Regions from separate parts of the Homo sapiens genome. Here all the other regions are linked to region 1. The links come from fine-mapping of genetic effects on gene expression. A gene starts in region 1. Each other region holds a variant in brackets. All regions are shown on one strand. Distances are between the middles of the regions.

Region 1 (8,237 bases):
TCTAGAGTTTACTAGTGTTGTCACTTTGGGCAAATTGCTTGATCTCTCCACAGTCAGTTTCATCTACAAAATGAGGAAGATCATAGTAATCATACCTTCTCACTCGCTTCATAGGCTTGTTTGAGGATTAAGTGAGCTAATATAAACAAAACTCCTACAGAGTAGCTGGAATAGTACTATATAAATGTTTGCAATTATTATTATGCAGCTATTGCTTGGCTTGGCAATGACTTTGATTCAGAGTGACAAATGAGGCAAGCAGACTGTATTTTGCATTGACTTCCAGGACAATGATGTGGGACTGAAATATTTCACCCAGGAATATATTCAAGCCTGGAAACCTACTGTGGAAAGCCATTACTTCTCTGGGTCAGTTAGGACATGTTCTCTTTGAATATCTCTAAATTAATTGAACCATCATTAATCACCAGTGATTACTAATGGAAGACAATGATGTTAAAATGGGATGTATCTAAAATCTTGTGACAAACTCTCCTGCTATACTTCATTTGTCTACAATTTAAGAATTCAATTTTCTTGAAAAAAGTTATATTTACACACTACAGAATTTTCTTAATCTTTATTAAATCATTACCTCTTTAAAGTTGATGGAAATCTTGGCAAACTCCAAAGTAGAGATTAAAACGGTACTGAATGCCTCTTTTTTGGTGGCAAATTGGTAGGTTAAGTTGGAATATTTTTACAACCTGGCATTGGCGTATATGTTTGTCAATCTAAGGATTTCTGTATTGGTTTGGTCAAAAATTCCAAATAAGTAGGTTTTTTCAGCTATATTTTAAAGTAGGATCAATGCCACCCATAAGTAATAAACTATAACTTTTAAGATCAATAAACAAAACAAAACAATAATATTTTATTAGTACAGATTGCTGTCAACCCTGCTAAATTAGTAAGAGATGGAAATGATTCAAAAAAAGGTATAGCTGGTTATGGCAGGCTCTGCAAAGCAATGAATGAAAGAGATCTGTGTTAACATTTTCCCCAATCTACCTTTCCCAGTTGCTGGGTGAGAGAGTGCAAACACATAAAATATTCGGTCTCTGTGCCTAAGCGTTGATACTCAGCTTCAAGTCAGCACCAGTTAGAATATAATTACTATTTGGAACCAACATGTCATTTTAGGTGTACTAATTGTATAAATTAGTTTTAAGTGCAACTGACATTGTATATAATTACATTTTGGCCAAATCTAGCATGCTTGCTTTGTCATGCCTAATGATTAAATGATCACTTCCTTATCCTTACATGAAATGGGAAAATATTTTATTTATTTTTCTTCCTCACACAATTGATTTGCATAATGCCTAATGATGCCTAATGATGTGTTTACTATATATTGCTCCAAACAAGCCAAAACAGTCATTTTTATGGAGAAAAATCATCAAGTTCAGAGGAAAGCCTAGGCTACCATTTTGATACCTACAACTAGTTCATCTGATAATATTCCCCGGGCAGCCAGATGCCCCAGAGAAACAAGATACAGGTTTTTTTGTTTTTAATCAAATGACTCACCCACAATGACAGCGGTGACTGTGAGCAGCACAAAAGCATTCCGAAACAGGTAACTTTTAACATCCTCCTTTGTAATGTTCTGCACTTTCTTCTTGGCCAAAAGTGTGCGTTTACGGACTCCCTGCTGGAATCTCTCCATCCTGCCCCCCATCTTGGGCTCTTCTCCATTGCTTTTAGTCATATTTTACTTTTCTAGGAGGGTCTCTTCTTTGCACTTCAGTGTCTGGGAATCACCCACAGAAAGCCAAACCTCCTCTTTGGTATTAGAAAACACAACTAGAATGGGAGAAAAAGAGACATGAGTTATAGCCTCCAGGGGTGAGAAATCAGTGCTGCTCCACACCAGGCAAGCTCTTGGCAAATTGCATAATCTCAGCAGGAATCAAGGACTGGAGAGCCACAATACCAGACCTCAAGGTTGCAGTGTGCATATTTTAGTGGACCACGTGTGAGAAATGTGCATAAATTCGGAATATATTCTATTTTCTTTTTAAAAATCCGTCCTTCCCCTTCCAATGAGGCTATAAAAGGGTTCTTCAGAGCTAGATCTGACTGAGAACCCCTATTCCCACCCTCCCCCGCAGAACCCAGCTGATGCCTTGCACAACGTACACAATCAGTAAATGTCCAATTGAACTGAATGCACAGAAAGTATTCAATCATTACTTGACAAATTATGCTGTATACATGGTTGAAAGCATAACCAGGTCAATAAAAATAATTAAGATACTGATAGGTGGGAGTTGTCTCTGTTACATGCAGTAAAGTAACCAGCTATTTTCTTCATTAAGAAAAAAATATAATAATATCTACTAGTAAATATGGTCATAAAAAGAACACAAGTGCCCACAGTACATGGGAAATACATGTGACTATTTTACAGGGTAATTTTTTCATTTTTTTTCCATGAAATAAGCAAAGTGCTCTGGGCACATCTATAAATCATCTGAAATCACAATTCAGCTTCGTTTATCACAAGTAGAAGTATGAAGTAGTGTTTTTCTTTGTGACACACATGCTGGAATCTTCCGAGGAAACTATCGCTGACTTTTTAGCGTTTTAAAATTTAGGATTTCTAGAACAGATGAGATGAAACCAATTTTCATTCCAAACATTACAGCTTGTGGTTTCTGGTTTCTTTAAAGCACTCACGCTATTTAACTACATTTCAGTAAATCTCTTTCCTGGTGGAAATCAGCTGTTCTGAAAAATCAAGGGATTCCTCCTGGTGCTTTACAGGAGCTCTAATCCATAGCCCTTCCCATAATCAATCCGAGTGAAAACCAGCCGTACCATGGATGTGTGTCGCTGCCAACGCAAGCAGCCAGCGTGTGCGCCTGTGGGGGAGGTAACTGGAAACCAAAGGACTCCTCGCAAATGACTTCTCGCAATCCCAGTGCAGGAAAAAAAAAGACTTGTCTTAACAGTTTGCCTTTTAAATAAAATTGCAAGTTGGGGTCAGTGATACTAAGACTTCTAATTTGTTTAAGACTTCACACTGGATTAAATGCTTAGGGAGAAGTGAAGACCGGGAAATAGGAGAGACCAGATTTTTTTTTTTTTTAAACTAATAGCTCTGATTCCTCTTACCAGTCACTTTTAAGCAGATCCGCTCAACCTTGATCCTTTTCTAGATCTCGCGCCACAATCTGCCCCCAATCCACCCCGAATGACTCAACTCCGAATTAACAGCGGACCCGGCATAAACAGACACCACACTCTCACGACGTGAGATGACTAACAAGGACTTTATCTACCAAAATGGCTAGCCTTGATTCAGGCTACTCCTCTGCTTGGAAGGCAAAATACATCGGCAGAGAAGTGAAAGGAGAAATTAAACCCAGCAGGAACACAGAATGTGACACTTACCTTTTCTGATTTTGTAAGGGGTGGAAGATATCAAGCAGTAACGAGGTGAATTCCCCAGCAGGTACAACGGAGCAACAATCCGCAGCGCGCGTAAGCAGGCAGGCTAGCCCTGACAGTGTGCATGTGCTCTGAAACTGCAAGTTACTATCAGGGCAACTTAAGAAAAGGGGAGGAGTCTGTGCCCGGGAAAGGAGGAGTGGGGAATGGAAACCGCACAGGGAGGAGGGGGAAACCCCGAGGTTTCTGGAATATTGATTAATCTTGGCACACCAGAAGCAGGCTTGCTGGCTTTGTTTTGCTCCTTAGACCACTTTCACGCTTTGTCAGTTCACTGTCATTAGAAATGCAAAACCGGGACTAGGAAGAATTGAAAAATAAAGCGCACACAATCGGAAAGCTGAAAGTCTTGATTAGAACGTTTCAAAGACTTTTCTAAGGCTAAATTTAATTACCTCACATTATTGCATGTTTCCTCCCTTTCAGGGAAGACGAGGGTGTGCTCTTTAGCCTGGTTGTACAACTGTTACGAGAAAGTTCCTTTTTCGAATCGGGGAATTAACTGACGTTTCTTGGGAAGACACTGAATGCAGACAAGTATGTAGAAAAAAAATAATGCTTACTACGATTCTCTAAATTTGTCTAAAGTTAGGGACATGCCTCTATTTCAGCAGTTGAAACTTCAAAACTTCATTTTAACAAACCTAATTTAGCTCACACTGCCTGTGTTGCAAAGACGGAAAAGGTAGCAAATGTAAAGAGACTGGAATTTTTGCCAAACTAGAAAATGAAAAGCATTTTAAGACCAAGAGTGCAAAGTACACTTGAGATTTGGTGATTCAAAAGATAGGTTGCTGTTCAGATGTCTCCATTTTAAAGGATGCTAAATGTTCTCCCTACCACACACAACTTTTTTAGAGCTAAAAAATTCTCATTGCCTTGAGAAGGTAACTTGAGCTTCTAGTCCACTTTTCTTAAAAGAAAAATAAATTGTGAAAATAGATATTAGAAAATAAAAAAAAATTTTTTTGAGGTGACTTATTCCCAAAACTTAAATCTTCTTTAGAAGGAAGAAAATGGTTCATTAGAAACAAAAATTTATACCAGAATCACAGCCTGAGGTTTGGATTCTTGTTCACTGAATTTAATATTCCCCATGCAAAATATGCTCAATTCTTGGTCTATTATTCAACAAGAAAGTATGTCTTTTTTCCCCTCAATACAAATCTCTGGAGATCATAAAGAAATATCTCCTTTCACCCTCAACTGTATGTCCTTTTAAACAGCTACTGGTTGGAAAGCAATGGTGAATCATGTCAATGCTTTAAAATTACAAATCAGCAGCAATTATAACAGCTTTCTAACATGCTATCATTTTAAGAACTTACTGAAAGTACATGCTTTTGACATTCCCAGCCCTCAGTGACCCTTCCCTTCCTCTGATCTCCTAGGTCACTGAGCATCTATACTACATTGTTTAGCACTTAATTATACCATGTTTTGTACTGCATCCTTCTTTTTAAGCTCATGTTAAGTTTTGGTTTCTCAACTAAATTATAAGTTCTTTGAGGGCAAGAACTTGTCTTATACCTAATACAGAGTCAATATTAAGTAACTCTTTTTAAGTGGGTGGAATAATATTAGGATGTGAAACAAAACGCTTTTCAATCTTTTGTGTTAAAACACAATTACTAGTTTTTACATTGGTGCCTCTGGTTTAGGTGCATGGAGCCATTTCTCAATGCCATGACTACTTTTAAAAGCATTTATTTACTATACCAGGTCCTATCTGAGCCATGAGTTTAGGATTAATTTGCACACCCCCCCCCCCCACCGCTTTTTTTTTTTGGTGGAAATGACTTTGACTTGTATTGCAAGGGAACTCGAAAGAGAAATCTGATTTTAAATGGGGTTTCAAGCCCAGTGGCATTTCCATTTTTTGTTTTTATTTTTGTTAATAGGCAAGAAAAAGGGCTGGAAAACCACACTTTGGTTAGCATAGAGATGGGAAGACCCTGGTGCCCTTTCTTTTTCACTTTTTTTTTCCTCTCTAATCCCTAAAGCTTGGTTAAAAACCATTTCATTATTTCAGTTTGTGTAGACATTATGGGAGTCTGGTATTCTGTTGAGAAGGGAAGTAATTCACCACTGAAAGTTTTGTTGGCTGTAATAAAACCTAATGAGAAAATGAGATGCAAAGAGTCTCAGTTCAGAGTTCATCCAATTTTAGTCTGGAGGGAAACATTGGGAATTACTTCTTTAAGCACCACTTTCTCTTTCTGGAAAGCTATAGCAAAAGTCATGCCTGGGGGCCTCCTGGGTTTCCTCAACGCGTATTTCTACCTTTTCCCCTCTACTTTATAGTTAAGTCCCTTGAGCTTTAAAACATCTTTTTTTTTCCTTCTAGAAACACTAAATAAATGAAAGATCAAGAAATTATGAACAAGTCTCTGTATGCTGTATTTCATTTAAAGCTACTCAGGGTGGGAGACACAGAAGCTGGGGGATCATATTAATGTTAGTATTATCAAATGAAAAAAACACAAACACCAGCAGCAAATGCTGTTCCTGCTGAAAAAATCTGTCAAGATCTTTCTGTGAACATTGTGTGATGAAGTATGTTATCAGTAAATTCTTTCTTTGGGAAAAAATGTCAGTATAACAAGAAATAACCAAATCCAACCTGTCCTTAAAGGGAGCATTTATTGGTTTGAAGAACAAGAGATTACGGTAATAAGCACGTGCTGATCTTAGCATGGTACAGGCCAGTCAAACTTCACCATTCAAAATTAGGAAATTTTGGTTAATTGGATTTTTTTTTGAGCAACAAAATGGATTAGAAAACCTTTTAATCTTTTTTCAATATTTTCCAAGTTGATTTTTAATTTAATGATGGTTTTAAAATCATTCCTTGTTTAAATAGCTTGCATTTTAGGATCATCATGAATGTCAATTCTCCTCCTAGAATTTGGAAATTGTAGAATGCTAAGACAATGAACAGGACCTGACTTAACCCCAGAGTGTAACAGTGGATGTGTTAGAGGCAGTAGGTGTAGAAGAACTTGTGGTAGTTGTCTTCCATTTTGTTTTGATTTTTTTTTCTTCTTAAATATGAATGTAAAAAGCAGAACAACAAAAAAACCTGTGGTGAAGTCTGGTTAGTTGAATTTTTAAATAACTAGGTTTTATTTTAAAGTTATAGTCATATGAAACCTAAAAACATCCAACTACAGAGAGGTGAACTAAAATTAACTTTATCACATTCATTTATTCTTTCAACAAACATTGAGCAACCACTGTGTTCCAAATACCAGTTTCTTTCCTCAAGGAGTCCATAAACGCATCGTAATTATTAAGCAGTGGGCCAGGACAGGGCCCAACAGAAGGTTATGAGATCGCTGTGTGCTGAGGCCTATTTACCAGTTAGTATGTCAAAAAGACTGGTAGCAACTTAAGAGAAGGGGCTGTGCCTGGATCCACATTGTGTACACTGTTTCTAGCAGGTGCCTGCCCATAGCAGCCATCGTGTGGCATGGCAGGGAGCCAGTAGTGGTTCCTGCTGGAGAACAGGCCAGTAGGGGCCGAATTTACAACTTGAACTCCACTCCTAGTCAATGGGGAGCCAGCCACAGGATTTAAGCAGGGAAGTAATTTTCGTTTTAGGTAAAATGCAAAGCCTTGAAGTGACTAAGACTTGGGTTAGGAAGTCAAGGGGCAGGAGGAGCATTTACAAACTAGGTGAGTTCACATTCACACTGAAAAATACTGACCATTTGAGAATATCAAGGCCCTTGAAGGGGTCGGCTGACACTGAGCCAAGGCTGCCTCCTGTAGGTGGAGTGTGCACTCTCCAGCCCACTTGTCCTGCTCACTTCACTCAAGTTAGTTATCAGCATGTGGCTCTAGCAAGTTCTTCTGTTTTGACCTCTGATGGGGTTTCAGAAGAGGACTGAGCAAGGGCAGAAGCCTAGGGAACACCAACACAAAGGTGAAGACCAGCAAGAGGAACCCCCCCAAATAGATTCCCACGTGGCAAGAAATTACACCAACTGTTATTTTTCTCACAAGTGATCCAACAGGTGGACATAATGATGCCTTAAAAAACAACATGTTTTCTCCATTCTAAAGCTAAAGAGGGTCTGCTTTTTAATGAAGGCTTCACACATGTTATTGTTATCAATTATTATTTATATTGAAAAGTGACATTTTCCCCAGTTGCTCAACATGAGTCAAGACTTTGTAGAACCAAGAATATCCGTTTAGCTGGAAAAGATTATGTAGGTTGATTGGAATTGAAGCCTTCAGCAGACATGTTTACAGGGCTTTATAGTTTTTTAAGTACTTCTACACACATTATCTAATTTAATCTTCGTGATAATACTTTGAGGTCTATTCTACTCTATTATTACTGGTCCTGTAGACCCAGATGTTGGAGATCAGTAGGGATTGAGTAATATGCTGGGGATCATAGTCAGCGCTAAGACAAGAGTTCTTCATGTTGATTTCTCATCTTTTCCCAAAAGAAGCCCCCAGGAGTTTTTTTAAAGACAGATAGAAAAGAAAGGAAAGAACATTAAAAGGAAGGCCTACAATCTGTTATTTCTTCTGGGGAGTCAACTCTAATCTCCTCCCACTCCCCAAATCCAACGGGCTTGGTTGCCTTTCCTATGTGCTCCCAAGGCCCCCTGGGTTTAAATCTCCAGAGTCATTACCACTTTGTGCTGCAATTCTCCCTGTCTAGACTGCAGGGTCTTTGAGGGCAGGGCCTGTATGGATAACTACTGCATACTTAGGAACCAGAACGGAAGGTGCTCAGAAAAGAGTTGCTGCACCAATAA
Region 2 (8,000 bases), 26 kb before region 1:
TACACATTGGGGCTGAGTTTCTCAGAAAAGACACAGCAGTTGTATAACCAATGAAAATATTTACAATTATGCAGCTGTGATAAGGTAATCGAATTCCATGCCGCAGGGCAGAAACCTATCCCTTCCAGTAATGAGGTAGGAATTCTCGCTGGCTCCCATGTTGTTACCGGATTAATTTTATGGTTTCTTCAATTTACCTTAATAGGAAAGTGGTTGCTTCAGGGATCACAGACAAATGAGACTTGTGAAATCTGGAGCCTTAGTTCCGTGTCCCTGACTTGAAGCTCTGTCTTCTTGCTCTAGAATTTTCATTTATACAATGGGAACCGCCAGAAGACAGCTCTTGCTGCTACTCTTACCGCCAACAGCTACCATTAATTGAGCACACACTATGTGCCAGGCATAAATCCTCACAACAACCTTGTGACACAGGTATCTTATCACTTACATTTTATAGAGAATGAAAGGGAAGCCTAAAGAAATTCCTCCCTGCGTTAGATACTGTTTTTTTTTTTTTTCAATACAACGTACGGGTAGGTGTTGAGGGGGGCAGGTGGTGAAATCTACAGCTCCTTTTCTTGTCCATAAATGCTCAGAGTATTCAAACAGGCCTCAGACATACACCAGAGCCATGGCAATGCATAGTTTAAGATATTAAATTTCTCTTAAGTGATTTCGACTCATTTTGCAAGCCCTTGACAAACCCTTCAGATGCGAAGATTTAAGAATTGTCTAGCCCTTTTGTGTTACACGAAATGACAAAACTTTAGTTCACTCTTACTGTAACTGTCATCTCTCTGAAGCCAAAGGACCGTACTTTGAGGTACAACATTTATTATTTTTAATTAAGAAAGCCCTTTGCTGGTGATTCTAGCTCACTGCCTTCAACAGTCATTGAGTCCCACATTTGACTGAAGTTGTTGGTCTATAGATTTGAAAAGAAGCTGCCCAAATAATATGTGACACATCATAGAGCTTGTCACATGGAGAGGAGAGGACCAGAGAGGCAGGTGTTGTGTTTTGTTTTTCTGGTTTTTAAATTTATTTGTTTTATTTTGGATAAAAAAAAAAGTATTGTTAGAGTTTTCTAAGGACAAATGGGTTCCAAAGAGCTCTTGTCTTTAGATATGTTCAGGAAGAAGCTGGACAGTCATTTGGAAGGGACACTGCAGGAATGTCTGGACCACCAGATCAGTGCTTTCCAAAGTGGGATAGGTGTTCTGGTGGTGTGGAAATCCTACCTTAATTAATATTAAATCACAGTGAGAAAGTCATTCTTTTCAATTCTCTTTTGATTCTTTGGATTACAGGAAAGGCAAAGTCTTATTTTGGTACTAATGTGTGTTTAACACCTTGTTAACATTTGCTAATCCCCTCTATTTATTTATTTATTTATTTATTTATATTTCTTTTTTTGAGACAGAGCCTCACTCCGTTACCCAGGCTGGACTACAGTGGCGCGATCTTGGCTCACTGTAACCTCAGCCTCCTGGGTTCAAGTGATTCTCCTGCCTCAGACTCCCGAGTAGCTGGGATTACAGGCACACGCCACCACTCCTGGCTAATTTTTGTATTTTTAGTAGAGATGGGGTTTCACCATGTTGGCCAGGCTGGTCTCGAACATGTGACCTCAAGTGATCTGCCAGCTTTAGTCTCCCAAAGTGCTGGGATTACAGGCATGAGCCACGACGCCCAGCCATTTAAAAATACTACAAGAGCGGGGGAGTCGGGTCTCAGGCTCCCAGAGCCTTTGTTAGGCAATTGCATCAATTTACAATTTCATAACATTGTTACTTATCTCCTTCACATGACAAGTAATAGGAGGTTTCCATTTTGGGTAATGATTGTAGGCTGTGGAAGAAGAGTATGTTGGTTTAAAGAAAATATTAAGTAAATGAGACTGAGATGGTACCTATGATGGAAAATTCTGGGCTAGTTGACTTTAGGATGGAGATGCTGTGTCATGAAAATCAGATTTGAAATCATGTTCTTAAAAATCAGCTTGTCACTTTCTTGTTGGGAGTACAGAGAACGAGTCTTATCTCCTTTTAGTTGGAACTGGAATATTATGTGAATTAAGGGATGCAGGGAAGCTCTCTCCTCAGCACCCAACATACATCTTCTTGGGGACTGTATCTTTGTGTTCATGTATCCCCAGTGTCTGACATAGTAGAAGCGCAATAAACAGCTGTTAAAGAATGAATGAATGTTAAATGAGAAATTTCATCTACTTGATAATCCTGCCTCGAGGGTGCCCTACCATACGTCCCAGACACTGTTGCTTTTACTCGTGTTGACACTCCTCTCTCACCTCTTTTACTTACATCATGCCCAACACCACAGAGATTGCATGTCAAAAGTTGTGCTCCCCACTTCCAGAAAACTGGGGTGACACCAAAGATTTCTTCTGAGGTAAGTGATTGAGGGGGAATGCACACTTAGAATGAGAAAAGAAGAAAGCACTAGTTTCTGAAAAGATTCAGAAGTGAGGAGGTAATAGTTATGTCTACCCTGCACAACCAGATGTGACATTTAATTATTATCCAGTGAATTTAATCAGGCTAAGTCAGCCAAACCAACTCATATTTCTGGCATGAAATTTCTAGTTTGGCTGCCCATCCTGACCAAATCGATAGAAACTGGCACCAAACCCCTATTTTATTGTGTGGTGTGTTGGCACAGACATAGTCTTCTTGTCCAAAAAATAGGTACTTGAGTACAAATCTAGCCATTAGGCTTCCTCCCAGCTTCTTTCTGGCAGCCTCTGGAATGCTAATACACACCAGGGATGTTTGGAAAGATTGGAGTTTCAAATTCAGGGAAAAGGGAACATGGCTTACAAGGGCTATAGAGCCACAACTCATAAACACGGATGTTTCAAGTAAAAAATATAACTTAGATGTCTCAGAATTTAAATGTGGCTTTAGTACAATTAAACTTATAGCATGTTTTCTAGAATCTTCCACAATAAAAAGCTTAGTCCAAGAAACACAATAATAGTTTTATGCATTTCAGTTTCTGTCTACAGACCCTGGGACAACTGAACTTAGGAGAAACAAGTCTATAAAGTATTTCCCCACTGGGAAATATTTCCTATGGGAGCATGACCTCTGAGTTCTTACTCCAGTGTTCCTTCTGGTGCAGAAAAGACCAGAATGGCTACTACACAATGCAGTTATACCCAGAAGATGGAGAGAAGAGGCTTTCCAATAGCAATTTGTTTAGTCAGCAGTAAACATGATGTTCAGTAGTGAATTCCACATTATCAGTTAAGCTTTGGCACAGGACTGCCAATGATTGGATTCTGACATTCAAACCTGAGTTCAAATATTGGTAGTCTGAGGGTTGGAATGGGCCTGCCATTGGAATTACATTGGAATGGGTGTACTGCGTTTGCTTTGCACTGGTTTGTTTCGTGAATTGTATCAAAGAATCTGCAGGTTCTTAAAAAATTTGAGATTTCTGGATACTCTTGAAAAACAGGAAGATCTGGCCCTTGTCTCAATAGTCTCTTTGCCTGCCTTTTGCCATATTATTCTGTAGTTGGGTCCCTCTCCGTTTATCATCATACTTGTCCCTCTTAGTTCTCTTGTTGAAGAGAAATATTTCTCTGTATCCATGACTCTATCAAAATAGGAAAACAAAAAATAGCCTGAAAGGGCAGCTTCATGTACATGCATCACCCACGTGGCCACTGGAGGCATTTGAGGTTGCCTTTCCACTCTAAAGCAATGGAGCCTGCCTTTGTTTCTTCCCTAGGCAACACATTCTCCAGTAACATTTCCCAGTATACACAGGGATCCTCCAGGGGTCTGTGTAATTTGTAGAAGTTCCTCCCTTCCCATTATAGCTGGGTCATACCCTCATTTGGGTTAGAATTATTGTATTCAAAACCATAAAGGACATTCTTACTGAATCCATCATTCATTCCATTTGATCATAAATATCTAAATTACTGTGTAGTTTGGAAATTACTCACTTCAGACTAACACCTTAAAAAGATCTTTGGCGAACTAAATTCTGCCCCTCAGACTCCTTGCCTTAGCACAGTCCTGGACAAGAGCTAAAACTCTCTTAATGGTCCAATTTGGCAACACTCCCAACTTGCAATTAGGTTACAGTTTTAAAAGTTCATTTTATATTAGTTGTTTGCAGCTTATAATTCTTTTCTCTTTAACAATATTATAAATGTTAACAATTTTTCCAAGTTTTGACCAAAAATTTCTCTTTAGCCATGCAAAGGGATTGCATCATAGTATTTTTTTTTCTGAAAAATTACACAACCAAAGTTCTTATTTCTTC[A/G]ATAAAGTTGTTTGTTATTAGGTATTAAGAAAAATCAGGAAATTCCACTTCAAGGTGGTGATCAACTGGGACTGCTGCTAAGGGGAAGTAACACTTCTCTAATTGTATCATATAAGGGCTTTTCTCTTTTAAAGAGTAACACATTGGATTTTCAGCACAGTTAAGAGAAAGCAGATACCTCTAAACATTGGTTCCACCCTTGAAGAGAAAGTATAAAAGATCCAGAACCCCTCGGTTTGTGTATAGGAAAACTGCAGGCACTTAATCCAGATGCCCTGCCAGCAGGGATGGTGAGGAGAGACTCTGCTCTACCACAGAAAATGTCAGATGTGGGTTCTGTCTTACAAGTGCTTTCTGTGAATAATTTGTTTCCCAGAAAAATATCAGCATATGGATAATAAAATAAGCATGTGCCCTCATGTCAGCATGAATATAGCTTTTGTGGTAAGAACTGTAGCTGCTGTGATTACCCCTGGTCAGCAATGGACCATCCCAGCTTCACAAACAAGTACATCAAATCAACTCCAGGACTGTTTTATGGGCAATTCATTCTCCAGTGAAAGCATATGTACATGCAATCACTTGTTTAAGGCCCTGGACAAGTGGAAACCAGCAGAGATCTGCAAGGCATTGAGGGAAAATCTGACATAGTTCCTGTCTAAGTAATAGCCAGCCCTCCAAGGCATGTAATAGAATGTTCCTCCATGACTTTTGAGTTGTACTATGAAGTTCTCATTACACAGAGATCTTGAAGGATAGTATAAATATCCTTGAGAACTCCCTGGGATGGGAAGGATTCTCAGTGCCAGCTCACATAGAGGTAGAGTGGTATATGCCCAACAGGGGAACAGTGAGCCAAGGGTGGAAAAGAGAATAGGGTCAGTAATACCTGAGTTCTGAGCTTTACCTACAAACCCAGAAATCATCCTGCTCGGGCAGTGTCTATGGAAATTCCTTCTCCAAGTCAGAGATGTGCTGTGGGGAAAGAGAAGAGTGGGCAGGAAGGAATGTACAGTAACATTTTTCTGCAACTTCTTGGCTCCATCTGATTCACCAATCACATAGACAAATGACTCTTTCACCTTTTCCCATGCAGGAATAAATGGTTATCTCATTGTCATAGAACATAGAATCCTATCCTGCAAAGCTTCCACTTGTTAAAAATCCAAGTGTCCACTGATAAAATATTCAGATGGGAAAATCTCCCGCCCCCTCCCCCTTCTCCCACTAGCATAAAAGGTAACGGGGGTGGGAGGCAACTGGAGAAGGAAATGAAATCATGCGGGTACACCAGGAAAAGATAAGTGTTGGTGGCAGCAGAGTTGGTGAGTGTTGTGGGCATTACCTCTTGATGAGGCTTCCAAGAAGGCTCCCGCTCAAGTCCTGGTGGTTCTGAGAACAAGCATTCTTGCATCAATAGCTAATAGGCTGTCCAACCAGATGTTATCTGGGTGGGATAAGAGGGTGAGAAAACAGACCTGTTGTACGCTGTTGTCAACTACATCACTGTGGTCAGAGAAGGCTGATGGTGTGGTGTTTAGCAGGGCACCTCGTTCACTGTGAGGCGAACCAGATTACGTGGCTGTTTAAATTCGTTTCCTCTTGTGATTGGTAAAATACGAGAGTTATAATCATTCATGCATTACTAAAGCCTCCTTTCCATCATTTTGAAGGGACTTTTTTTTTTTTTCTAGAACAGAGCATGCATCCAGCAGAAACCTAAAGCACTGGCTTTTCTAAGCAATCTTTTGCAATAAACACACTTAAAAAAAACCAAACAAACCAACAACTGCTTATGGTACCTGTGACAAGACTGGAGATGATAAGTGGTAAGACCAGCATCTGTAACATCCTCATCAGAAGTTCCCCAGGAAAGGAGAAGTACTTGACTTCCCGGTAGCTCATTCTGTATGGTCGGAGGGTAAATCCAAGGATTGTACCTGAAGGAAAAAAAAAAAAAAAGAAAAAGAAAAATTGAGTCTTTTTTGAAACAGAAGGAACAGCCCTAGCAAAATGAGTAAGTATTTGGCTGGTGGTTGTATTTATTTAAGCAGCAAATATCTGTGCTGCTTTGGGAGCAAGAGATGTATCTATCTTTGCAGTCATTATCTGTGAGGGTCTGGCTGAATCCGTGGTTCAATAGAACTTATAGAAAAAAACTCTTTCTAGTTTCAACAAGTAAAAAAATCCCTTTGTCTAACTTGAATGCAGTGGAACTCATTCTGACCTGGCTCAATACAGAGTTACAAAGATTGGGGCATAATTAGGAAACAAATAAGCATTCACGAACAGGTGATATAGAAAAAAAAGGCTTTATTTTAATTAAGTTCCTTTATAACAACAGATGTTAGAATTGCTAACATAACCACTTTTAAAGGATAGTGTGATTTTATTTTTTTTTCCAGTTAGAAAAACCCCTCATGTTCACATTGTTAATCCATTTTCATCATCTCCCTGTCTTCACACCACATTTTCTCCCTCTGTCTACATGGTCTTGACATTGCCTTGGTAACTGTATTGTACAGACTTGTTAGTTGCTGGCAAGAGAAGACTCCAAAATGAGCAGAGATTTTCTCCCCAAAATTTTCCCTGAAAACGTGGGAGAATATAGGGGAAAGAGAACGCAATTTTCCCCTTAATTTTCCCTCTACAACTGAAACTTTAAAATCTTTTTAGAATGAGAAATTTGCATTTAAATCAAATTATGCATGATAACTACTGAAATGTTCAGAAATTAATAAAGGTATTGGTGTCAATAAAAGTGTAAATTTACTCCCTCTCCCCTTTACCTAATTTACTTTCCTTGCCAAAGAAAATTTACTTATGCCAGTGTTGTAAATGTTTTTAAAGTTTTTGCCTTGCTATTATTACTGAAACATGTGATTCCATTTTTTAAAAAAGTCCATGTAAGTTATAGAGAAAGCAGCATGCCCAGCACTGAGTTAACTAGGAGCTAAAGGCTGGGGGTGGTGGGTTGGTGGGGAGAAGCGGGAATGATACCGGGTTGGCACAAGCTTTTCTAGAGGAGGCAAGCAGTCTTTTACGGAAACTGAACTGTCTTAACTTCTTATGAAATGGGACACAAAGTTCATTTGAATTGTCACTGCAACTCCAATTTCAATTCTTGGGTCTTAGCAACCATAAAGTATCCATTCTTTGTCTCTAAACTGTGATATTCTAATAAGAATCTTAATCTACGTGGCTAAAAAAAATCCAGCTGACCCAGCTCTCAGGGCCTTCAGGTAAATATTTATTGCTTTTTTCCAATGTAACAGTAATATGGTCAAGGAGAAAAGTTGAATTGGAAAACGCAGAAAGGTGGGGCAAAATCCTGCCCATATTGTTTGTATCACTGAAATAAATAGTAAATAACTAATGCTTACTGAGCTCTTGCTATATGCTGGGTGTTGCCTAGGTTAGCAGCAAATTTAATCCTTGCAACAACCCCAGGAGGAGGGTACTATTTTACCACTAACTTACTGAGGGAGAAACCTAATCACGATGAACTTAAAACTTGCTTAAAGTCAAATATACTCAAGTGGCAGAGCTAGGATTTAAAAACAGACAATTTGGACTCAGATCCCAGGTTCTTAACCCCTTTATGTGTTTCCTCTTCTCCTGTAGAGCAAAGGCAACCACTTTGTGTGTCTCTTTTGCAGAATGTTCCAATACATAGTTAAACACATGGAAATCATACA
Region 3 (8,226 bases), 80 kb before region 1:
GTGCAGCGGCTCACTCCTGTAATCCCAGCACTTTGGGAGGCTGAGGCAGAAGGATGGCTTGAGGCCAGGAGTTTGAGACCAGCCTGAGCAACATAGCGAGATCCTGTCTCTACAAAAAATAAAAATAAAAATTAGCCTGGGCGTGGTGGTGTGAGCCTATGGTCCTAGATACTCGGGAGGCTGAGGATCGCTTGAGCCCAGGAGTTCGAGGCTGCAGTGAGCCATAATCACAGAGTGAGACCCTGTATCTTAAAAAAAAAAAAAAAAGCTGTGAACCTGCATATTTTTCATAGTTCCATTTGTGAGCACATGTGTGACTACCACATGTTGGGATCTAAGGCCTGCTTCTCCACCCTCTTTGTCATACTCTGGCTGAGAGGCACTTCCCTTAACCATAAGGGGCTTTCCACAGACCTCCCACAGGCAGATGACCTGCTTCTTATGTCTGCATTGTGGAGGTGGCCAAAACCCAGCGTGGGCTGCAGAAGGGAAGAAAATGGTCCCGGCAGAAGGGAGCACTTCCTAGCAGTGGATTGATTTTATGCGGCACTTCCCAGAACGTTTCACAGGGGGCAAATATTGATCTGCTCAGGGTGGCCAGGCTTGGTTCCCTCAGTTTGTGAGCAGCCTTTCTTTTCCCAAACTGGTCATGTAAATACCACATATGCCTTCACAAAAGTTAGGGTGTATGGTTCAAACATAGCGATTTGTAAATTTTTTTTTTTTTTTAGTCGTAAGATCTGTTAGAGAAACCGATTGAAATTAAGAATTTTACCCCCAGAAAAAGGCAAATGCACAAAACTTTCCCCACAACTTCAAGGGCGATGAACCTATTGAACTCTCATGTGGATGACCTAGGGGTCCATGGATCCAACTTAAGAGCCTTTCCTCTAGGTGGCTGCCACCTGCTGGTAGAGAGGGTCAGATTATAGGCTCCAGACACTACTTCAATCTGGAGATTTCATGATATTGCCTGCGAATTCTTTACTAAAAAGCATGATGAAAAGTAGTCATCCGTAAGCTGTTCTTAATGAATAGAGCACCAGCACAATGGCTGTTTCTGGAAATCCCTTGAGATCTTAGTTAGCTCTTTTCACAAATGGTGGTAATAATCACAGAGATAAATCTACCTAATTTGGAGGTCAGACAGGAAGTTACTTTTTCGGAAGGGCCCATGGTGGTATCACACTTTTCTAATCCCGACATGGAAATGATTCAATTCATCTGAGAAATTTGAATCTGACATGGACAAGGAAGTATGGCCTGCTACAGCAAAGTGCTCCGCTCACCTCCTCCTGTTTCCAGCTCCAGTTCTTGGAGTTGAGCAGGAGAGCATGTCCTTACTTATTTTCTTGTGGCTGGCTCTGCCAAGATTTTACCTTGCTGCATGGGATCCTTCCAGAGACTGCCCTGAGCTTATTGTAATATTTCCATGAATGGAAAATGTATTTTTCTTTGAGGAGAAGAATAACAACAACGTGCAAAGATGTTAATGTAAAACTATTTTTTTCTTTATTGAAAATACATCTACAAAGTAATGCTTCCCAGTCCACACTGAGTGCATGTGTATGCAGAGCCTGTGATGGCTTGGCGAGAGGATGGGCTCCCCACAGGACCTTTCCATAAGAAATGGTTAGTATATTAAAAAACACATATTGTGTAACAGAATTAAGTTGATATGATTAAGTCTTTGCTCTACTAGTGTCTTAAGAGGACAGCCACGTACTTTAACATTTGTAGTGTATTTCCGAAATAGAGCCTCGACATTAAATGGTTACTGCACCACAGCCTAATGTTAACTTTTATGCACAGAATGCTTGGGGTCTATATAAAAATATCTCTAATTGTATATCAGAGGATCTATGTCTAGATTTTTCAGTTTGTTAGCATAATTAAGTCCATTCTTCACCATTTTCAGCCAGAAACTCAAACACAGCTGCTACTGCCTGACAGCTCCCACTCAGCGTCTTTGACTGGATATTCCTTAGGGGGTAAAAATTAATCTCTAAACCTGGGAGCTGCCTTGCCTGAAACTAATGCCCCTGCTGTTTTTTTCTCATAACCTCATTGACAGTGTCTTCATACTGATTCATCTTCTACCATTTCTCTTATGGACACAAACAAAACAAAAGCAAACCCCACTCCAGCTGAAAGTTTTGAATGATTTGATAAGTGGGATTCCAAAACAAATAAATATTTTGTTTCCCTCATTCTAAGGACTTTTGATTAAAGAAAAACACTTTCAAATAAGAAATACCCACTCAACTCATGGACTTCTATTAGAGAGCTCATTCATTTGACTTCTTTCAAATATATAAGTCGTCTTATGTTTTGGTAAGCAGACTTCACGGGGGGAATGATTTTGGACTCGAGAAAAAGTGTTTCAGGTGAAAAAAAAAGCCAGAAAAATGAACCTCTTCTTTTTTATTCTTCCTTAAAGAAGACCTGTACTCTTGGTGTTTTCAAATCCTTTGTTTGTAATGTTGCCTGTGCTCAACTCTTTCCTAGCTCTTTAGTGTTCCACAGTGTGACCACAAGCACCCTTGCTAGCTGCTAGTCTTCTCATCTGTTTTCGAAGTCTATCATCAGTTGAGGAGTGGCAGGAGACATTCTTCCCAGAGTAGGAAAGAAGGGAATACTTCCCCCATTGGGATGAACTGGGCAAAGAGTTTGATGAATAATCCCACTCCTGGAATGGCCTCCTGCCTGGCGACTTGCATAACCTGCACTTTGCTCACAGGACCTGGTGACCACCACACACAGCCATCCTGTCCTTAGTTAGAAATGTTCACTCCCATTGAAGTGTCTTTTCTGAAGGCCTCGTGCTCCATGGATGGTACAGGGTGTTCTGAGGGGAAACAGAGGGCAGGTGCTTTCATGACATCACAGGATGTCTGGGCTGGAAGAGACCATGAAGACTTCTAGGGAAGTCCCTCATTTTATAGATGAGGACACTGAGGCCTAGAGGTGAGATGGGACTTGCTCAAGGCCACATGGAAACTTTGCCTTCTGTCTGTCCTCACAGCTGTGCTAGATGTATATGTGCACCTAGCTACTAATGAAATAGGTATACCAGTCAGAAGAGAAAGGGATAAAATCTTACTGTCCAACTGATAACCGGTTGTAATTCAAGTTGTTAACATTTTGAAACTAAAACTGAATTGTATTCTGAAAGATTTTTAAATTTCAAAAGTTGATTTTAAAATGTTTTTAGCCTACTATTTGTCTCTTTAACTTATATAAAAAAATCACATTTATAGGATTGTGTGCCACATAAACTTGTAAGATCTGATCAACACTATTTGTGATCTTGGTACCTTATTCGGTAAGACTAACATGAAATGATTTAAAAATTTCAATTGTGGGATGAAAATTGTACACTTTGGCCACCCAAAATCCTCCCTTGTGTTTTGGAGGACTATTTTCCAGTCTTATCAGAAGGGAGGAAAGGGAAGATGACGGGCTTGCTGGAGCGAATGAGCTGTAATGAGATGGAAAGATTTTATAATGGTTTTTAACACCTGGTGCTCAAGAAAGTGTTTCTTTATGTTAGTCTACATCTTGGTTTCACTGTCGATGGGTTTCTCAGTTTCATTGTCCTGTGCAATCAGTTGATATGGTTTCTTCATTTCATTCTCTTCAATCACTGAGTTACCCATTTCAACATCTCTGTTCTTCAGTTCATGTCGTGACAAGTGCTCCACAATCCCAGCTCCCAGGGAGTCTCCCAGTACGTTGGTGGTGGTCCGGAGGCGATCCCTGCAGGCAGGGTGGGGAGGAGGGAAAAACGAGGCTCCCGTGAGCATCACAAGTTTTCAACTTACGTTAGGAACTGGCCAGCGAAGCACCTCTTAACATTCAGTTCGCCGTATCTACCAACTGCAAGATTACGTAATAGACACATAATATTCATAATAGTAGCTATTAAAGGTTATAAGGCCATATAGATGATGAATGTTCAGTTATTAGTTTGACTGAAGTGAGAGTCCCAACAGTGGGGAACGAGCCTTCTCTTTAAGCCATTCTCATAATAATACTAAGATGTCATTTGTCCCTCTCAGTCTCATTTTCTCATGAATGTATAGTGGAGTTTTGCAAAGACTACATGATGTGTGATGTCACAACTC[A/C]CTGAAGCAGTTGTGAAACTGCAGAAACAGGAAACTCCAACTGTCTTGTATTAAGCCAGACATTAAGAAAACTTGCAAAACATAAAATAGTACCATTCTTTTCACTAAATATTGGGGTCGAGGCCGGGCACCGTGGCTCACACCTGTAATCTCAGCACTTTGGGAGGCCAAGGCAGGTGGTTCACCTGAGGTCAGGAGTTCGAGACCAGCCTGGCCAACATGGTGAAACCCGTCTCTACTAAAAATACAAAAATTAGCCAGGCGTGGTGGCGGGCGCCTCTAATCCCAGCTACTCAGGAGGCTGAGGCAGGAGAATCACTTGAACCCAGGAGGCGGAGGTTGCAGTGAGCCAAGACTGTGCCATTGCACTCTAGCCTGGGCAACAGGAATGGAACTCCATCTCAAAACAAGTAAATAAATAAAATAAATTTTGGGGTCGAAATGGTTGTTTTTTGCAAAAAAATGCTATTTATGTTAGCATATATAACCTTTTTGTTTAAAGATGATAATAAATTCATTCCATTATTTTATTTTATGAATTATTATCACCTTTAAATAAAACATGTAATAAATTAACAAGTGGAAATTTATAAGTGTGTCTAATATGATAAATATGAATAGATACAACCCATATAGATCAAATGCTGTTTCAGTTCTCAATAATTTTGAAGTGTAAAGATCAAAGACTGTGGAGAACTGTAGCTTTATATGAGAGTGCTCATGTTAACTGATGCTGACTGTGGGCCAGACAGTAGGCTGCATGCTTTCTAGGCATCATTGCACTGAATCTTGCAGTACCCCTAGGAGGTAGAGGACACGGGCACCCTCATTTTACAGAGGTAGAAACTAGGGTGGTTGGGTAATCTGCCCGGTCTCACACAAGGTCAGGACACAAACACAGGTCCAAGTAACTGGGGAGTGAATCCTCTCGCCCAGTCTGGGGTTTCACGCACACTGTCAAGCTCTTTTCATGTTGCAGTTCTAGTGAACATATGTTGTGTTAACTCCAACACGTACTCTGTTCTAGGCTTTGCTTTGGGCATCCTGGGGAAAGATTTTCAAAAGTGGAAGGAAATTTTTAAGAGAAAAGGCACAGAGAATGCCAGCTGGAAGAGCGAGGGAAGGGGGCGAAGGGATGGGCCTGTAGAGGTTAGAGTTTGAGAATGTGGAGGGCACATTTCTTGTAACTTTCCCTAGATCCGAAACTCAATTCCACTTAATGACACTAGCTCTCTTCCCAGTGTCGGCATAGCTCAGCCTCACCCTATTGGGCTAGGATGGGAAAATCATTCCCACTGGAATGGGAAGCACACAGAGGCAGGGCCTAAGCTGGCATGTGGGGCCTGCAGCTTTGTTCCAGCTGCTGTGGTGTCATGTTGTGCAACTCAGAAACAGCCTTGCTGATTTATGTTGCCTTTGCAGACAGCGGGTTTCCCAATTCCTGAATGGCTTTATGGAGTGAGATGTGTGGCAGCCAGATGTGCCCCTTAGGCTGACAGGGGAGTGAGTGCACATGGCATCTGGGGCTCGGTCTCCAGATAAGGACCAGGGGTCAGACAATAAGGACAATTTAACTATGGGCCGAGAGGCCCCTCTCCTCAGAGTTCTTTCTGTAGATGTGCCAGGCTGCCTGGTGCCCTAGAGTGACAGAGGGGGACCCTGTGACAGTGAGCTGGAATGCAGGCCAAGCATACTCACAGGAACCAGTCCACCGCGATGATGAGCGTGATGTCGTCAGTGGGCAGGCCGACAGATGTCAGCACAATGACCATAGTGACCAGGCCCGCCTGAGGAATTCCAGCTGCCCCAATACTGGCAGCTGTGGCTGTGATGCTGTTAACAGAAGTACCAGAACAGAAAACACTTTTACAAAGCTCCCCACGTAGAGCATATACGCTGCAAAATACGCACGGTGCCGATGCCTGACTTGCCATGTAACACAAGAGGACGCGCTTCAGAAAAAACGTAAATGAGATTTTTTTTTTTTTTGAAACAGTATCTCACTCTGTTGCCCAGGCTGGAGTGCAGTGGTGCAAACTAGGCTCACTGAAACCTCTTCCTCCTGGGTTCAAGTGATTCTCGTGCCTCAGTCCCCTGAGTAGCTGGGAATACAGCTTCATGCCCCCACACTCGACTAATATTCGTGTTTTTAGTAGAGCAGGATTTCACCATGTTAGCCAGGTTAGTCTCGAACTCTTGACCTCAAGTGATCCACCCACCTTGGCCTCCCAAAGTGCTGGGATTACCGGCATGAGCCATCATGCCTGGCCCGTAAATGAGATTAAAAAAAAAAAAATTGAACTAATCATCATGCTAACTAATATTTATCATGTGCTTACTATGTGTCTTCTGATATACTAAGCATGGTTTATCTAATTTGGTCCTCGTACAATGACCCTTGTGAAGTTGGACCTATTATTCTAGTCGTTTTTAAATAAACTGGCAGCTATACACTTTTAAACATCCCTGAAAGTATTTTGTAAGGCAAAGTCTAAAATGCTGTAGAGTTACAATAATAATTTGTTTCTAGTAATTCCCCTATCCAAGTGGAGGGTTGTAAAGTTACTGAACATTCATGATTAATGTTGTCAAAAGAATCAAATTTGGTTTCTTAGTTTGGTTTGCTTAGTTAATTCAAAAGCAAAATGATTTATGAACAAAGTTTTATAGTATTAGAAATACTTTTTATGAAGGCAGTGTAGACCTGGCTTGCAAAGCAAATGTTTTATAAATAGTAAAGTATTATCTGGTTATAAGTGGTATTAATAAAGTATTAAGTCTGTCACAGAAAGTATTCATGGTCCCCATACTGGTCCCCTTCTAAGATACTGGGACTTTTAGCTGGTATATGGCTCCCCAGAATGAAGACTACACTTCCCAACCTCCCTTGAAGCTTAGATTAAGTTCTGGCCAGTCAGACATGCATGGAGGTACTGAGCAACTTGCAGGGTATACCATCTCCCCACTTCCGACTGACTAAAATCTGGGGGTGGTGAGTCATCCCGGACCACCTGGATAATGATAATACCCTAGAGACTTAGTCTCTTATACCACAGAGCACCTATCAATCAGCCTTGAAGGCTTTGTGGAGCAGAGCTGTGCTGCATGAAAGAGAAATATATTTCTATCTTGCTTGTCACTGTTACTGTTATTTTTAACTCTGTCACCTTTTTTTTTTAATAACCCAGAGCCTTTCAATCAATATGCCAAAGTATAGGTTACAGGTGAGCTGAGATAATGATCTCCTAAGTCCCATTATAACTACTTTGGGCCTGAGGTTCCCAGAACCCCCAGGTCAGTCATTGACCTCTGGCCCTGATCAGCCTTTTCCTTTTTACTCCGATGCATCCTACTACAACTATTATCATTTTCTACTAACACAAAACATATACACAGAGTCTAACAACTTATTTCTAAATAAACATAACAACAAATGTGTGGTGACTGATTAGATGAAAAGAAACTAAGACACCAAATGTAGGCCATAAATGTGGATTTGAACTTGGTCTGGAAGTAAAATCTGTAAAAGACATGTTTTGGGGGACAACTGTGGAAATTTGAATATAGATTGGATATTCTGGAAGTATGTTTAAGATTCTTACTATTGTGGTTATGTAGAAAAATATCCTTATTCTTAGGAGATGCATGCTGAATTTTGTACAGGTGAAATGTCATAATGGCAGAGAAAGAGAAAGAAGAAGCAAAAATGGCAAAACGTTTGCAATTTTTCCATCTGGTAGAGGATGGTTGGTATAATATTGTTTCAACTTCCCTATATGTAGGGCATTTCACAACAAAATGTTGAGTGATAAAAATCCCCCCAAATCTGACTTAGTTTGCTCTCCAAAATGTACTTTTAATAACAATTTAAAAAAAACCCCACAACAATGAAGAGCAGAGGCTGATCTGGATAGTGAGGCTTAAAGTGTCCCATTGCCATTAGACTCATGGGTCCCTTGTGCAAAATAACTTTTAATAAGCAAAAAGGAGGGATTATATTTGCACATGCACATGCGTATGCCTGGCGTATCTCTGGAAGGATGCAGAAGAAACTTGCAGGTAACACTGGTTGCCTCTGCAGAAGGAAACTAAGAGATGG

Evidence for each region.
Region 2: its variant is fine-mapped to the expression of SLC1A3 in whole blood (TOPMed, PIP 0.99).
Region 3: its variant is fine-mapped to the expression of SLC1A3 in whole blood (TOPMed, PIP above 0.99).

Annotation. Positions count from the first base shown.
Region 1 is chr5:36,601,901-36,610,137 of GRCh38, reverse strand. SLC1A3 (solute carrier family 1 member 3) reads right to left here and starts at 3,532. Exons shown (of 10, transcript NM_004172.5): 1 at 3,403-3,532; 2 at 1,534-1,809. The coding sequence starts at 1,714. RefSeq lists an enhancer at 3,326-3,425.
Region 2 is chr5:36,627,692-36,635,691 of GRCh38, reverse strand. It overlaps SLC1A3 (solute carrier family 1 member 3), which reads right to left. Exons shown (of 10, transcript NM_004172.5): 3 at 6,105-6,242. Among named protein-coding and RNA genes, the nearest start is that of SLC1A3, 25 kb to the right of the region's middle. The variant A/G (reference allele first, on the strand shown) is at 4,303.
Region 3 is chr5:36,681,598-36,689,823 of GRCh38, reverse strand. SLC1A3 (solute carrier family 1 member 3) reads right to left here. Exons shown (of 10, transcript NM_004172.5): 9 at 5,826-5,960; 10 at 1,490-3,759. The coding sequence ends at 3,555. The region is part of intron 1 of SLC1A3-AS1 (SLC1A3 antisense RNA 1); the gene reads left to right. Among named protein-coding and RNA genes, the nearest start is that of SLC1A3-AS1, 39 kb to the left of the region's middle. RefSeq lists an enhancer at 185-414. The variant A/C (reference allele first, on the strand shown) is at 4,128.